Regions from separate parts of the Homo sapiens genome. Here region 1 is linked to region 2. The links come from fine-mapping of genetic effects on plasma protein levels. A gene starts in region 2. The other region holds a variant in brackets. All regions are shown on one strand. Distances are between the middles of the regions.

Region 1 (6,968 bases), 7.3 kb before region 2:
AATCATTGACTTAATTATCTTAAATCTTGGAGGTATTTATTGGCATTTCTGTAACAAGTGCTAAAGACTTGCCGATGAGTGCAAGGTTTGTAAGTGTCAGGCAGTAGCAGTCAGTGAAGTGCAGCAGTCACAAGGCCCTCTGGTCTAGACAGAAGCAGCAGCTTCCTCTTAAGGCCTTTTCCTACCCTTATGTTTTGTGGTGTGCTTACAAGGACACACGGAAAGGTTGAAGAAGCAGATTCCTCTCCTGCCTTCTCACACAGTGTTCTGTTTTTTTGGTTGTGTTTTTTTTTTTTTTTTTTTTTTGAGATGGAGTCTGGCTCTGTCATCCAGGCTGGAGTGCAGTGGCAGGATCTCAGCTCACTTCAACCTCTGCCTCCCGGGTTCAAGCACTTCTCCTGGCTCAGCCTCCTGAATAGCTGGGATTACAGGCACGCGGCACCATGCCCGGCATGAGCCACTGCGCCCGGCCTCACAGTGTTTCTTGGTGGGCTTAGAGGAGAAGCTCCTGAGCCTTTGGGAGCATTGCCTGGGTTCTTCCTTATAGGACCTGTTTAGGGGGAAAACACTCAAACGTGTTTTTCCTCTTTTTTTCACACCACAACAATCATCAACACAGAAGA[C/T]GACACCTGTGACCAAATATGGGGGGTTTCTCCCCACACGCCAATCAGTGGACACCAGTTGGGAGTCCTCCAATCCAGTTTCCACACCCTCTGCCTGAAGATAACCTCAGATTCAGCAGGTTGAGGGTCAGTCCCACAAGACTGCCCCTTCCTTCCCACCAGTTGTAAGTCTGGGCCTCTGGAACTTCTGACCGACTGGCTTCAAATTGGGGTTCCTGTGACCCCTTCTATGGTTTTGATTAATTTGCTAGAGAGGTTCACAGAAAGAACTCAGGGAAACACTTATGTTTACAGGTTCATTATGAATATATGATACATTTTTTTTTATTTTTTTCTAAACTGAATCTTGCTCTGTTGTCCAGACTGGAGTGCAGTGTCACCCTCACAGCTCACTGCAACTTCAAACTCCTGAGCTGAAGCAATCCTCCTGCCTCAGCCTCCTGAGTAGCTGGGATACAGGTGTATGCCACCATGCCTGGCTAATTTTTTTTCTTTTTTTGTAGAGATGTGGTCTCACTATGTTATGTTACACAGGCCAGTCATGTGATCCTCCCACCTCAGCCTCCAAAAGTATTGAGATTACAGGCATGAGCCACTGTACCTGGGTTGTTACGAAGGATATTTGAAAGGATACAAATAAACAGCCCAGTGAGGAGATACTTGGGGCCTGGTATGGAAAGGTCCCAAGTACAGGAGCTCCTGTACCTTGGAGTTGGGGTGTGCCACCCTCCTGGCACATGGATGAGTTGTTGCACCTTCCTGTCAGCTTCCACATGTTCAGTTATCCAGAAGTCCTCAGAATCCATCCTTCTGGGTGTTTTTTTAAGACTGGGTTTTGGTCTTAACCAGGCTAGAGTGCAGTGGCACAATCTCATTGCTCACTATAGCCTCAACCTCCTGGACTCAAGCAGTCTTCCTACCTTTGCCTCCCAAAGTGAGCCACTGTGCCCAGCCCCTTTTGGGTTTTTCTTTTTTTTCTCGAGATGGAGATTCGCTCTTTTTTTTTTCTGAGATGGAGTCTCACTCTCTGTCACCCAGGCTGGAGTGCAGTGGTGCCATCTCAGCTCACTGCATCCTCTGCCTCCCAGGTTCAAGCGATTCTCCTTCCTCAGCCTCCTGAGTAGCTGAGATTACAGGCATGCACCACCATGCCCAGGTAATTTTTTAATTTTTAGTGGAGACAGGGTTTCGCCATGTTGGCCAGGCTGGTCTTGATCTCCTGACCTCAGGTGATCCACCCTCCTCAGCCTCCCAAAGTGCTAAGATTATGGGTGTAAGCCACCATGCCTGGCCAAGTTTCACACTTTTTGCCCAGGCTGGAGTGCAATGGCATGATCTTGGCTCACTGCAACCTCTGCCTCCTGGGTTCAAGCAATTCTCCTGCCTCAGCCTCCTGAGTAGCTGAGATTACAGGTGCACGCTACTATACCTGGCTAATTTTGTATTTTTAGTAGAGACGAGGTTTCACCATGTTGGCCGGGCTGATACTGAACTCCTGACCTCCAGTAATCCACCTGCTTTGGCTTTCCAAAGTGCTGGGATTACAGGCATGAGCCGCTACACCTGGCCCCTTTTGGTTTTTTATGGAGGCTTCATTACATAAGCATGATTGACAACTGTACAGAAATACGATTAGACAAAAAAGGTTTGATTTCATACCAATGGACTGAACAAGGGAACTCAGAAGGCCCGTCTGTTAGATTCTTCTTGGCCTCTCCATGTAGCATTCCCTCCTCCAGGGTATGGAGCAGGACCCTCTGGATTAAGGGTCTTTTGACCTGCCATCAGATTACAGTCCTGCCCTGGGCAGGTAAAAGGAGGACAGGAGGTCACAAAGAGATTCTGTTTCCTGAGGGCTGCTCCTGAGGCTTAATGCACCCCATTCAAAAGACTTTTAAGGGCTATGGGAGTTACCAGCCAGTAGCTGTGGACAAAAACAGATTTTGTGTGTGTGTGTGTGTATTTTCATATACGTATGTATATCATAATATCACAGGACCAGTTACTTTTGCATTGGACCGAAGATGTATGTATTAATTACTGTTTGTGTTCTATTTGTACTGTTCTGGAAAGACTTCTGGAGGTAAAATCTAGGTTTTTTGATTCCACTTCTTGCTTCCTTCCTTCTTCCCTCCTCTCCCTTCCCCTCCCCTCCCTTCTCATCCCTTCCCGTTCCCTTCCTCCCCCTTCCCTCCATCCCCCCCTCCCCTCCCTCCCCTCCCTCCCCTCCTCTCTCCCCCTTCCCCTCCCTCCCTCCCTCTCCCTCCCTCTCCCCTCCCCTCCCCCCTTGACGGAGTTTAGCTCTTGTTGTCCAGGCTGGAGTGTAGTGGCACGATCACGGCTCACTGCAACTCCACCTACCGGTTTCAAGTGATTCTCCTGCCTCAGCCTCCCTGCGTAGCTGGGATTACAAGGGCTGCCACCACGCCCGGCTAATTTTTTTTTTATTAGTAGAGACAGAGTTTCAACATGTTGGCCAGACTGGTCTTGAACTCCTGACCTCAGGTGATCCACCTGCCTTGGCCTCCCAAAATGCTAGGATTACAGGCGTGAGCCACCAGGCCCGGCCGGTTCTACTGCTTTCTATATTCTGAATACTTTCACTGTCAGACCTTATTTAACAAGAATCAGCTAATCTTTATTCAATTATTTTGGTCAGTTAATACAACTAGAAGTTAGGGGAACTTGGAGAAGTATGTCAACAATGTGTCAATAGTCCTACCACATAATTAATAATTCTGTTCCCTTTTCAGTCCCCTTCACAGTTTTTGTTTTTTCGAGACAGAGCCTTGCTCTGTCACCCAGGCTGGAGTGCAGTGGTATGATCTCAGCTCAAGGCAACCTCCGCCTCCCAGGTTCAAGCGATTCTCCCGCCTTAGCCTCCTGAGTATCTGGGACTACAGGTGTGCGCCACTACAGCTGGCTATTTTTTTTACTTTTAGTAGAGACGGAGTTTCACCATATTCACCAGGCTGGTCTCGAACTCCTGACCTCAAGCGATCTACCCACCTTGGCCTCCCAAAGCGCTGGGAGGCATGAGCCACTGCGCCCAGCCTCGCTCAACTAATTTTTTTTATTTTTAGCAGACACGGAGTTTTCGCCATGTTGGCCAGGCTGGTCGCAAACTCCTAAGTCCTTTCTTTTTCCCCCCAGTGGTTATCTGGTTACCTGTTGTTGTTTTTTCCTTTTTGTTTTTTTTGAGAGTCTCACTCTGTCGCCAGGCTGGAGTGCAGTGGCATAATCTCGGCTCACTGCAACCTCCGCCTCCCGGGTTCAAGTGATTCTCCTGCCTCAGCCTCCCGAGTAGCTGGGACTACAGGCATGCACCACCATGCCTAGCTAATTTTTGTATTTTTAGTAGAGACAGTATTTCACCATGTTGGCCAGGCTGGTCTCAAACTCCTGACCTCAGGTGATCCCCCTGCCTTGGCCTCCCAAAGTGCTGGGATTACAGGTGTAAGCTATTGTGCCCGGCCTTTTTAAGTTTCTGATCTGATATATTCTGTGTGGCTGACTGCTGCAACTTTAGTTCATCTGTCTTAAAATGAAAAGGGGCACAATAATATTTTTTTCTTTACTGAGACAGGTTCTCACTGTTGCCTGAACCACGAGTGCAGTGGCACAATCACCACTCACTGCAGCCTTGACTTCCGGGTTCAAGCCATCCTCTCACCTCAGCTTCCTGAGTAGTTGGGACTACAGTTGCATGCCACCATGCCTGGCTAATTTTTGTGGTTTTGTTTTTGTTTTGTTTTTGAGATGGAGTCTTGCTCTGTTGCCCAGGCTAGAAATGCAGTGGCATGATCTTGGCTCACTGCAGCCTCCACCTCTTTGATTCAAGCAATTCTCCTGCCTCAGCCTCCCGAGTAGCTGGGATTACAGGTGCCCGCCACTGTGTCCAGCTAATTTTTGTGTTTTCAGTAGAGACAGGATTTCACCATCTTGCCCAGGCCGGTCTCGAACTCCTTACCTCGTGATCCACCTGCCTTGGCCTCCCAAAGTGTCGGGATTACAGGCGTGAGCCACCGTGCTTGGCCAATTTTTGTAGTTTCTGTAGAGACAGGGTTTTGCTATGTTTCCCCCGGCTGGTCCTGGGTTCATGTTGATCTTCCTGCCTTGGCCTCCCAAAATTCTGGGATTACAGGTGTGAGCCGCTGTGCCTGGCTGAGGTACAGTAATAAGATACATCTGGAGGATTAAAGGTCAACCCCAATTCAGTTTAAATAAGATAGATTCCCTTTGGATATACGGGAAATTTATTTTACCTCTTGGGCAATTAAACGCAGGAATGGCTACAGGAATGACTTTGGAGTTTCCATCTTGAGAAATCTAAGAGGGAGAAGGTCCAGGAAGTTCAGGCAGAGAAGTCTCCCTGACTGCGGGCAAGTTAGATGGTCGGCTACATTTCTTCCAGTTCTGATTCTTTGATGCTTACAATGAATCATTTTCTATTCAGATAGAGATGTCTTTGTTCAGTTATCTTATTGATGTGCCAAAGAAAAGAGACCAGGAGTGTCTAAAATGTATATTTTGGTAGAAATAATTTCATTTAAAGCCCTTTTTTTTTTTAAATTATCTTCAGCAGACAAAAGCTTTCTGTGTCAAATTGGCATAAAAGTTTCTAAACATTTGGCTGGGCGCGGTGGCTCATGCCTGTAATCCCAGCCCTTCGGGAGGCTGAGGTGTGCGGATCATGAGGTCAAGAGATCAAGACCATCCTGGCCAACATGGTGAAAGCCCGTCTCTACTAAAAATACAAAAATTAGCCAGGCGTGGTGGCACGCGCCTGTAATCCCAGCTACTTGGGAGGCTGAGGCAGGAGAATCGCTTGAACCTGGGAGGTGGAGATAGATTGCGCCACTGCACTCCAGCCTGGCAAGAGAGAGAGACTCCATCTGAAAAAATAAATCAAAGTTTCTGAACACTTACTCTCAATTCCTGTACTTATCTCATTATGGGCTGGAAACAAACAAACCTCCCTCCTCTGTGGGTGGAGTACTTCTGACTGGACAGACATTTATTTATTTTTGAGACGGAGTCTTACTCTGTCGCCCAGGCTGGAGTGCTGTGGCACGATCTTGGCTCACTTCAAACTCCGCCTCCCGGGTTCAAGTGATTCTCTTGCCTCAGCCTCCCGAGTATCTGTGAATACAGGCGCGCACACACGCCCAGCTAATTTTTGTACTTTTGTAGACACGGGGTTTCACCATGTTGGCCAAGCTGGTCTCAAACTCCTGACCTCAGGTTATTCAGCTGCCTTGGCCTCCCAAAGTGCTGGGATTACAGGTGTGAGCCACTGCACCTGGCCTGGACAGACATTTAAAGTAAGGCCTACTGCTGCTTGTTTAGTCTCCATAGGTGCTTTTTTATTTTTTTCTTCTTCTTTATTAGTATGTTATGTATTTGTGAAAAACAAAACAGTTCTAGTAATAATGTAAGACAAATATAAGATTAGTAGTATTGAGCTTGATTCATCTGAAGAGGATTTTATGAAAATAAACCACTATGGCAGGACTGCAAGATAATTTTTTGTTCTTCAGAATGTTCATTAACTGCTGGATTCAGAGAGAGAATGAAGACTTCAGTAGATCCTGTATGTATAGCAGGAGGCCATGTCCCACCAGCAGAAATGAAACTGCTTGAACTAACAAGTTGTCTCAGTCCGAATTCTCTTTATCTTGAATATTTTAAATGTGGAGTTTTGTTTTTCTTTTATATTTACAATTATATTTAGGTTATTTCAGGGACACTTATTGTAGGACTTGTGTGTCTGATCCAGTGCATTTGATCTTGCTTCTTTTACAATGGATGTAACCAAGGAAACTAATGGGTGACCCTCTCTGAGTTTTAGTTCATAATTGTGACAGTTGTCATTCTGAAAAGCTTCATACTCTATTTTTGCTTGTAGTTAAATAGTATAGAACATTTTATGTTACTCCCATAGAATGTTCCAGAAATTCATGAAATGTTAAAAGCAGCAGTAGTATGTTAACATTAACAAAGCATGAAAAATAAATAAATAAAATAAATGTCTGTCCAATGAGAAATACTGCAGCCACAGAAGAGGGAGGTTTGTTTGCTTCTAGCCTATCATGAGATAAGTACATGAATTGAGAGTAAGTGTTAAAGACCTCTTCTTGGCCGGGCATGGTGGCTCACGCCTGTAATCTGAGTACTTTGGGCAGCTGAGGTGGGTGGATCACTTGCGGTCAGGAGGTTGAGACAAGCCTGGCCAACATGGTGAAACCTGGTCTCTACAAAAATACAAAAAATTAGCTGGGCATGGTGGCGGGCGCCTATAACCCCAGCTATTGGGAGGCTGAGGCAGGAGAATCGCTTGAGCCT
Region 2 (6,779 bases):
CTATAATCCCAGCTACTTACTTGGGATGCTGAGGCAGGAGAATTGCTTGAACCCGGGAGGCACAGGTTGCAGTGAGCCGAAATTGCACTGTTGCACTCTAGCCTGGACAACATGTGTGAAACTCCATCTCAACTAAAGAAAAAAAAGGAAAACTAGGCCGGGTGCAGTGGCTTAATGCCTGTAATCCCAGCACTTTGGGAGGCCAAGGTAGGTGGCTCACTTGAGGCCAGGAGTTTGAGACCAGCCTGGCCAACATGGCGAAACCCCGTCTCTACTAAAAATACAAAAATTAATCAGGCATGGTGGTGCATGCCTGTAATTCCAGCTACTCGGGAGGCTGAGGCAGGAGAATTGCTTGAACCCAGGAGGCAGAGGTTAAAGACCCTGTCTCAAAAAAAAAAAAAAAAAAAAAAAAAAAGGAAAACTAGGCTGTGTGAAGGGTGAAGGTGGCTCATGCCTGTGATCCCAGCACTTAGGGAGGGTGAGATGGGAGGATCACTTGAGTCCAGGAATTTGAGACCAGCCTGGGTAACATAAGGAGACCCCATCTTTTAAAAATAAAAAAAAAAAAAAAACAAAAATAGCCAGTTGTGGTGGTGCGCGCCTGTAGTCCCAGCTATTTGGGAGACTGATATAGGAGGATTGCTTGAGCCCAGGAGTTTGAGGCTACAGTGGGCTGTGATTGAGGTACTGCACTCCAGCCTGGGCCACAGAGTGAGACCCTGTCTCAATATCCTCCACCTGCCACCCCACCCCTCCACAAAAAACAAACAAACAAAAAAACTAAAAATATGTATACTATTAAGCTCTTAGTAAAAGTTTCCTTTCATAGAAAATATAGAATTTTTGCATTCACTTTGCACTTTGAATCAGTTTTTTCCCGGTTTAGAAACAACCCTAATGAGAGACAATTCATTTGGAAAATTGGATGGGTTCCAGTTTTTTTGCTGTCAGAGAATTGGATAAATAGCCTATATCATGTGATAATTACTATAAAGCAATGAAGCTTGACAGTGAGGTGAGGGATTTGAAAACATACAGTTAATAAGCAAGGCGAATTACTACCCTGTTTGTAAATATGGATACATTTCCAAGAGTGAAAAAAAGAAGTTGATACCATTTATGTTAAATATAACCAAAACATGTTACATGTTATCTGGCTACATGTAAATATACATAAAACAAGTGGACTAGAAGGCTGCACAGGACTTGCAGTGGGACCTCTGGGAATAGGGGGAGCAGGATCCACCCGGAGCTGGAAGGGGCCGTAGAGCTAGAGTTCCCTGTTCTTATTTAAAAATCTTCATGTCCTTGGGCCAGGCGCGGTGGCTCACGCCTGTAATCCCAGCACTTTGGGAGGCCGAGGCAGGTGGATCACAAGGTCATGAATTCAAGACCAGCTTGGCCAGGATGGTGAAACCCCATCTGTACTAAAAATACAAGAATTAGCCGGGCATGGCGGCAGGCGCCTGTAATCCCAGCTACTAGAGAGGCTGAGGCAGGAGAATTGCTTGAACCTGGGAAGTGGAGGTTGCAGTGAGCCAAGACTGCACCATTGCACTCCAGCCTGGGCAACAGCGAGACTCCGTCAAAAAACAAAACAAAACAAAAAAAAACTTCATGTCCTTATATATTTGTGTAATTTAGAAAAGAACATAAACAACAAATATGGGAAAAGATGAACAATGGTTAATTCTGTGGAGTGGGAGCATGGTGGGTGATTATTTTGTTTATGCTTTTAGGTATGTTTCCAACCATCAAACCAAAAAAAAAAGAAAAAGAGAAACAGATCCTTGATCTTAACAGGAAATGGCTGTCATTATGAGTATTATTTCTATTCCCTGTTTTCATAGAAAATGTGGACACAGACTTGCCAGGCAGCCTGGGGCAGAGTGAAGAGAAGCCCGTGCCTGCTGCGCCTGTGCCCAGCCCGGTGGCCCCGGCCCCAGTGCCATCCAGAAGAAATCCCCCTGGCGGCAAGTCCAGCCTCGTCTTGGGTTAGCTCTGACTGTCCTGAACGCTGTCGTTCTGTCTGTTTCCTCCATGCTTGTGAACTGCACAACTTGAGCCTGACTGTACATCTCTTGGATTTGTTTCATTAAAAAGAAGCACTTTATGTACTGCTGTCTTTTTTTTTTTTCTTTTGAAGAACAGGTTTCTCTCTGTCCTTGACTCTTGGGTCTGTGGGCCATGGCATGAGTGTTTTCTAGTAGTAGATTGGAGGGAAAGCTTTGTGACACTTAGTACTGTGTTTTTAAGAAGAAATAATTTGGTTCCAGATGTGTTAGAGGATCTTTTGTACTGAGGTTTTTAACACTTTACTTGGGTTTACCAAGCCTCAACTGGACAGACCATAAACAGTCCACAGGCACCGTTCCTGCCAGGCCCCAACCCACAGGGAGTCTCTCCGCAGAGCCTTCTTGGTGTTGCCCTAACTTGCCAGTGGCCTTTGCTCAGAGCCTCCTCCTGTGACATGTGAACAATGAAGAGGCCTGCGCCTCCTGCCTTGCCGCCTGCAAAGCAAAGAAACTGCCTTTTATTTTTTAACCTTAAAAAGTAGCCAGATAGTAACAAGACTGGCTGGCTGATGAGCAAAGCCTTTGCTCTCACGCAGAGGAAGGCTTGGATGTACAATGAAACTGCCTGGAACTAAAAGCAGTGAAGCAAGGGAGGCAATCACACTGAAGCGGGTCTTCCTCCAGGAACGGGGTCCCACAGGCGTGTTGTTTTAAATAACCTGATGCTGTGTGCATGATGCTGGTGCTTGACCATGAAAGGAAAGTCTCATCCTTAAAATGTGTTGTACTTCACAATCCTGGACTGTTGCTTCAAGTAAACAATATCCACATTTTGAAACACTGTGTACTGTGTCTTCTTTTTGAGATGGTTTCAGTGTTCTCCCTGGTTAGATGCTTTTCTCTTTGTCACTATAAATCCTGCCTACTGATTGGAGGAGTCATTTGAAGTTAAATAGCCAGATGTGCCTGTAATTAGCTACTTGGGAAGCCAAGGCAAGAGGATGCTTGAGCCCAGGAGTTTGAGACTATCCTGGGCAACATAGCGAGACCTCCTTAAAAAACAAAATCTTAAAACAGATGAAGACCCAGAGAGGAGTGGGTTTCTTTCTGAAGAAGGCTCTAAAGATGAGCAGGTTAGACTCTTCTACCTCCCCTTTGTTCTGGGCAGTAACATTTTAAAGTGTTCTCCAAGACTGGGCAACATGGTGAAACCTCGTCTCTACCAAAAATAGCCAGGTGTGATGGCACACGCCTGTAGTCGGGAGGCTGAGGCAGGAGGATTGCTTCACCCTGTGAGATCAAGGCTGCAGTGAGCCATGATCGCACCACTGTACTCCAGCCTGGGTGACAGCAAGACCCTGTCTCAAAAAAAGTTCTCCAACTTTAAATATGCGGGGATTTCTCCCCACCAGCAAGCAAGCAAGCAAGCAATTCTGCAGTGGATACCAGCTAGGTGTCCTCCAATTTTTTTTTTTTTTTAAGACAGTGTCTCAGTCTGTCGCCCAGGCTGAAGTGCAGTGGCACAATCTGCTCACTGCAACCTCTGCCTTCTGGGTTCCAGCGATTCTCCTGCCTCACCCTCCCGAGTAGCTGGGACTACAGGCATGTGCCACCACACCCAGCTAATTTTTGTATTTTTAGTAGAGACAGGGTTTATGCCATGTTGCCCAGGCTGGTGTCGAACTCCTGACCTCAAGTAATCTGCCCACCTCGACTTCCCAAAGTGCTGGGATTATAGGCATGAGCCACCTCACCTGGCCCTCCAATTCAATTCTGACAATCAGTTACCTGGAGATAGCTTTGATTCCACAAGTTGAGGGCTCAGCCCCCAAGACTGCTTCCCCTTGAGATAACTCGCAAGTCTGGGCCTCCAAAATGTCTGCGTATCTATGAGTCATATGCATGTTGACTTGAGCCCCTCTTAGACTGGTTTGTCAGGCTTTTTTTTTTTCTGAGATGGAGTCTGGCTCTGTCACCCAGGCTGGACTGCAGTGGCATGATCTTGGCTCACTGCAACGTCTGTCTCCCGGGTTCAAGCAATTCTCCTGCCTTGGCCTCCTGAGTAGCTGGGATTTGTAGGCATGTCCCACCATGCCCGGCTAGTTTTTGTATTTTTAGTAGAGATGGGGTTTCACCATGTTGGTCAGGCTGGTCTCGAACTCCTGACTTTGTGATCCACCTGCCTCGGCCTCCCAAAATGCTGGGATTACAGGCGTGAGCCACTGCACCCGGCCCTGTCAGGTTTTTTTGTGTGTGTGATGCTTCTATTACATGTTTTGTTTGTTTGTTTGTTTGAGACGGAGTCTCGCTGTGGCCCAGGCTGGAGTGCAGTGGCGTGGTCTTGGCTCACTGTAATCTCTGCCTCCCGGGTTCATGCCATTCTCCTACCTCAGCCTCCTGAGTAGCTGGGACTACAGTCACCCGCCACCATGCCCAGCTAATTTTTTTTTTTTTTTTGTATTTTTAGTAGAGACAGGGTTTCACCGTGTTAGCCAGGATGGTCCTGATCTCCTGACCTCATGATCCGCCCGCCTCAGCCTCCCAAAGTGCTGGGATTACAGGCGTGAGCTACCGTGCCCAGCCTCTGTTACATATATTTGGAAGCAGTGGGTTCATCAGATGGGGAACAATGGCGAGATGGGCCACTTAAATCTGTGTTTATAATTTTGGCTCTCCCCTCCCCCAACAGGGACTCCCTCTGTCACCCAGGCTGGAGTGCAGTGGCAGGATGAAGGCTGTGTAGCCTCAATTTCCTGGGCTCAAGGGTTCCTCCCACCTAAGGCTCATGAGTAGCTAGGACCACAGGCATGCGCCACCATACCCAGCTTATTGATTTGTTTATTGTAGAGACAGGGTCTCCCTGTGTTGCTCAGGCTGGTCTTGAACTCCTGGGCTCAAGCTGTCTCCCACCTGGGCCTCCCAAAGTGCTGGGATTACCAGCCTGAGCCACGGCGCCTGGCTTTATAGTTTGTAGGCAAATAGATTTGAGTGGAGTCAGGAAGTTTCATGACATCCACAAAAAGAAGAGTCAACAAAATGTATCACAGTTCAGCATGTTCTTTTTTTTTTTTTTTTTTTTTGAGAAGGAGTTTTGTTCTTGCTGCCCAGGCTGGAGGGCAATGGCATGATCTCGGCTCACCGCAACCTCTGCCTCCTGGATTCAAGAGATTCTCCTGCCTCAGCCTCCCGGGTAGCTGGGATTACAAGCATGTGCCACCACGCTAATTTTGTATTTTTAGTAGCGACAGGATTTCTCCATGTTGGTCAGGCTGGTCTTGAACTCCCGACCTCAGATGATCCGCCCGCCACGGCCTCCCAAAGTGCTGGGATTATAGGCGTGAGCCACCGCACCTGGCCCTGTTCAGCATTTTCTAGACGGGAGTAGGTAAGCGATGTCAGTTCCACATAAAGTCCTGAGGACAGTCCTGATTACCTGTGCTTGATCAAAATCATCTTTCCGGGGGAAACCACACTTGAAGCTCCCATGTTTCAAGCCAACTCTAGTGTGAATTAGTCTCTTAACGAGCTAGACTTACACAAACCAGTTAACAGATTCATTTCACTTTGTAGTCCTCGAGGGATTGTTCCTGCTCCACTGCACAGACGAAAGCAATCCACTGAGACCACGGTACTGCGGTAATAAGACTTTGGCCAGGTGCGGTGGCTCAAGCCTATAATCCCAACACTTTGGGAGGCCAAGGCAGGCAGATCACTTGAGGTCAGGAGTTTGAAACCAGCCTGACCAACATGGCGAAACCCCGTCTCTACTAAAACTACAAAAATTAGCCAGGCGTGGTGGCGGGTGCCTGTAATCCCAGCTACTCGGGAGGCTGAAGCAAGAGAATCGGTTGAACCCGGGAAGCGGAGGCTGCAGTGAGCCGAGATCGCGCCGCCACTGCGCCGCAGCCTGGGCGACAGAGCCAGACTCCGTCTCAAAATAAAAAAAAAAAAAAAGAAAAAAAGAAAAAAAATGTGGAGCTAGCCCCACGGGTTTAGGACCCTTGACTCCTCGTTAGATGCTTCCCAGTATTTCAGAGCATCCCTTTGTTGGGCCCCCGGAAGGTCGGTCCCCTACTAGTAACGTGGGGTGAACGGGGGTACGTCTGCCGTAAAGTGGGAGGCGGCTGATGGGGACAAAGGCTGGGTCCCGAAGAAGCGCAGGGTCAGAAAAGTGCCCCCCAAAGCCGTCCCTGCACCCGAACCCTAGGATGGCCTCGCGCAACCGCAGGGCCGTCGGCACTGGTTTACGACCTGGGCGGGGCGGCCCGGACACTCTATGCAAATCAGCCCGGCGGACTCCGGAAGCAGCGCTCCCTCCGCTTCCGGCCGAGCCCGCGCCCCCCAGACCCCGAGAGCTCGCAGCTCCGGCCCGGCGGCGATGGCGCGGAGCGTGCGCGTGCTGGTGGACATGGACGGCGTCCTGGCCGACTTCGAGGCCGGCCTCCTGCGGGGCTTCCGCCGCCGCTTCCCTGAGGAGCCGCACGTGCCGCTGGAGCAACGCCGCGGCTTCCTGGCCCGCGAGCAGTACCGCGCCCTGCGGCCCGACCTGGCGGTAGGGGGCGCAGGGTCCCCACCCGGGCAGGGCCCGCTCGCTCCGTTCCGGGGGTCTCCCCCTTCTCTGTGAAGGGCGCAGAGCTCTCACCCTGGAACCCGCGGGCAGCGCACCCTGGGGAGGAGCCTTTGGGCGCGTGCCCCTGACCGACGCCCCCTCCGCCCCTCTGAGCTCGGGCCCGGAGCCCCCAGGAGCCTCCCTGCGGGTCC

Direction of the effects. Alleles are on the strand shown, and positions count from the first base shown. The strength of an association depends on the size of the effect and on how common the allele is.
For the plasma level of the protein whose gene starts at base 6,362 in region 2, allele C in region 1 goes with a higher level than allele T (strong association).

Evidence for each region. PIP is the posterior inclusion probability: the model's chance that the variant is causal. Protein levels are from antibody-based Olink assays in UK Biobank. Linkage for the fine-mapping came from a reference panel and not from the study's own genotypes, which makes the PIPs less certain.
Region 1: its variant is fine-mapped to the plasma level of the NT5C protein (UK Biobank, PIP 0.98).

What each region holds. Positions count from the first base shown.
Region 1 is chr17:75,138,502-75,145,469 of GRCh38, reverse strand. All of the region lies in intron 4 of JPT1 (Jupiter microtubule associated homolog 1), which reads left to right. LOC107985034 (a long non-coding RNA gene) reads right to left here. Exons shown (of 2, transcript XR_007065907.1): 1 at 4,594-6,968. Among named protein-coding and RNA genes, the nearest start is that of NT5C, 10 kb to the right of the region's middle. The variant C/T (reference allele first, on the strand shown) is at 624.
Region 2 is chr17:75,131,325-75,138,103 of GRCh38, reverse strand. It overlaps NT5C (5', 3'-nucleotidase, cytosolic), which reads left to right and starts at 6,362. Exons shown (of 5, transcript NM_014595.3): 1 at 6,362-6,570. The coding sequence starts at 6,397. JPT1 (Jupiter microtubule associated homolog 1) reads left to right here. Exons shown (of 5, transcript NM_016185.4): 5 at 1,854-2,856. The coding sequence ends at 2,002. LOC107985034 (a long non-coding RNA gene) reads right to left here and starts at 1,854. Exons shown (of 2, transcript XR_007065907.1): 1 at 1-1,854. RefSeq lists a silencer at 6,200-6,769.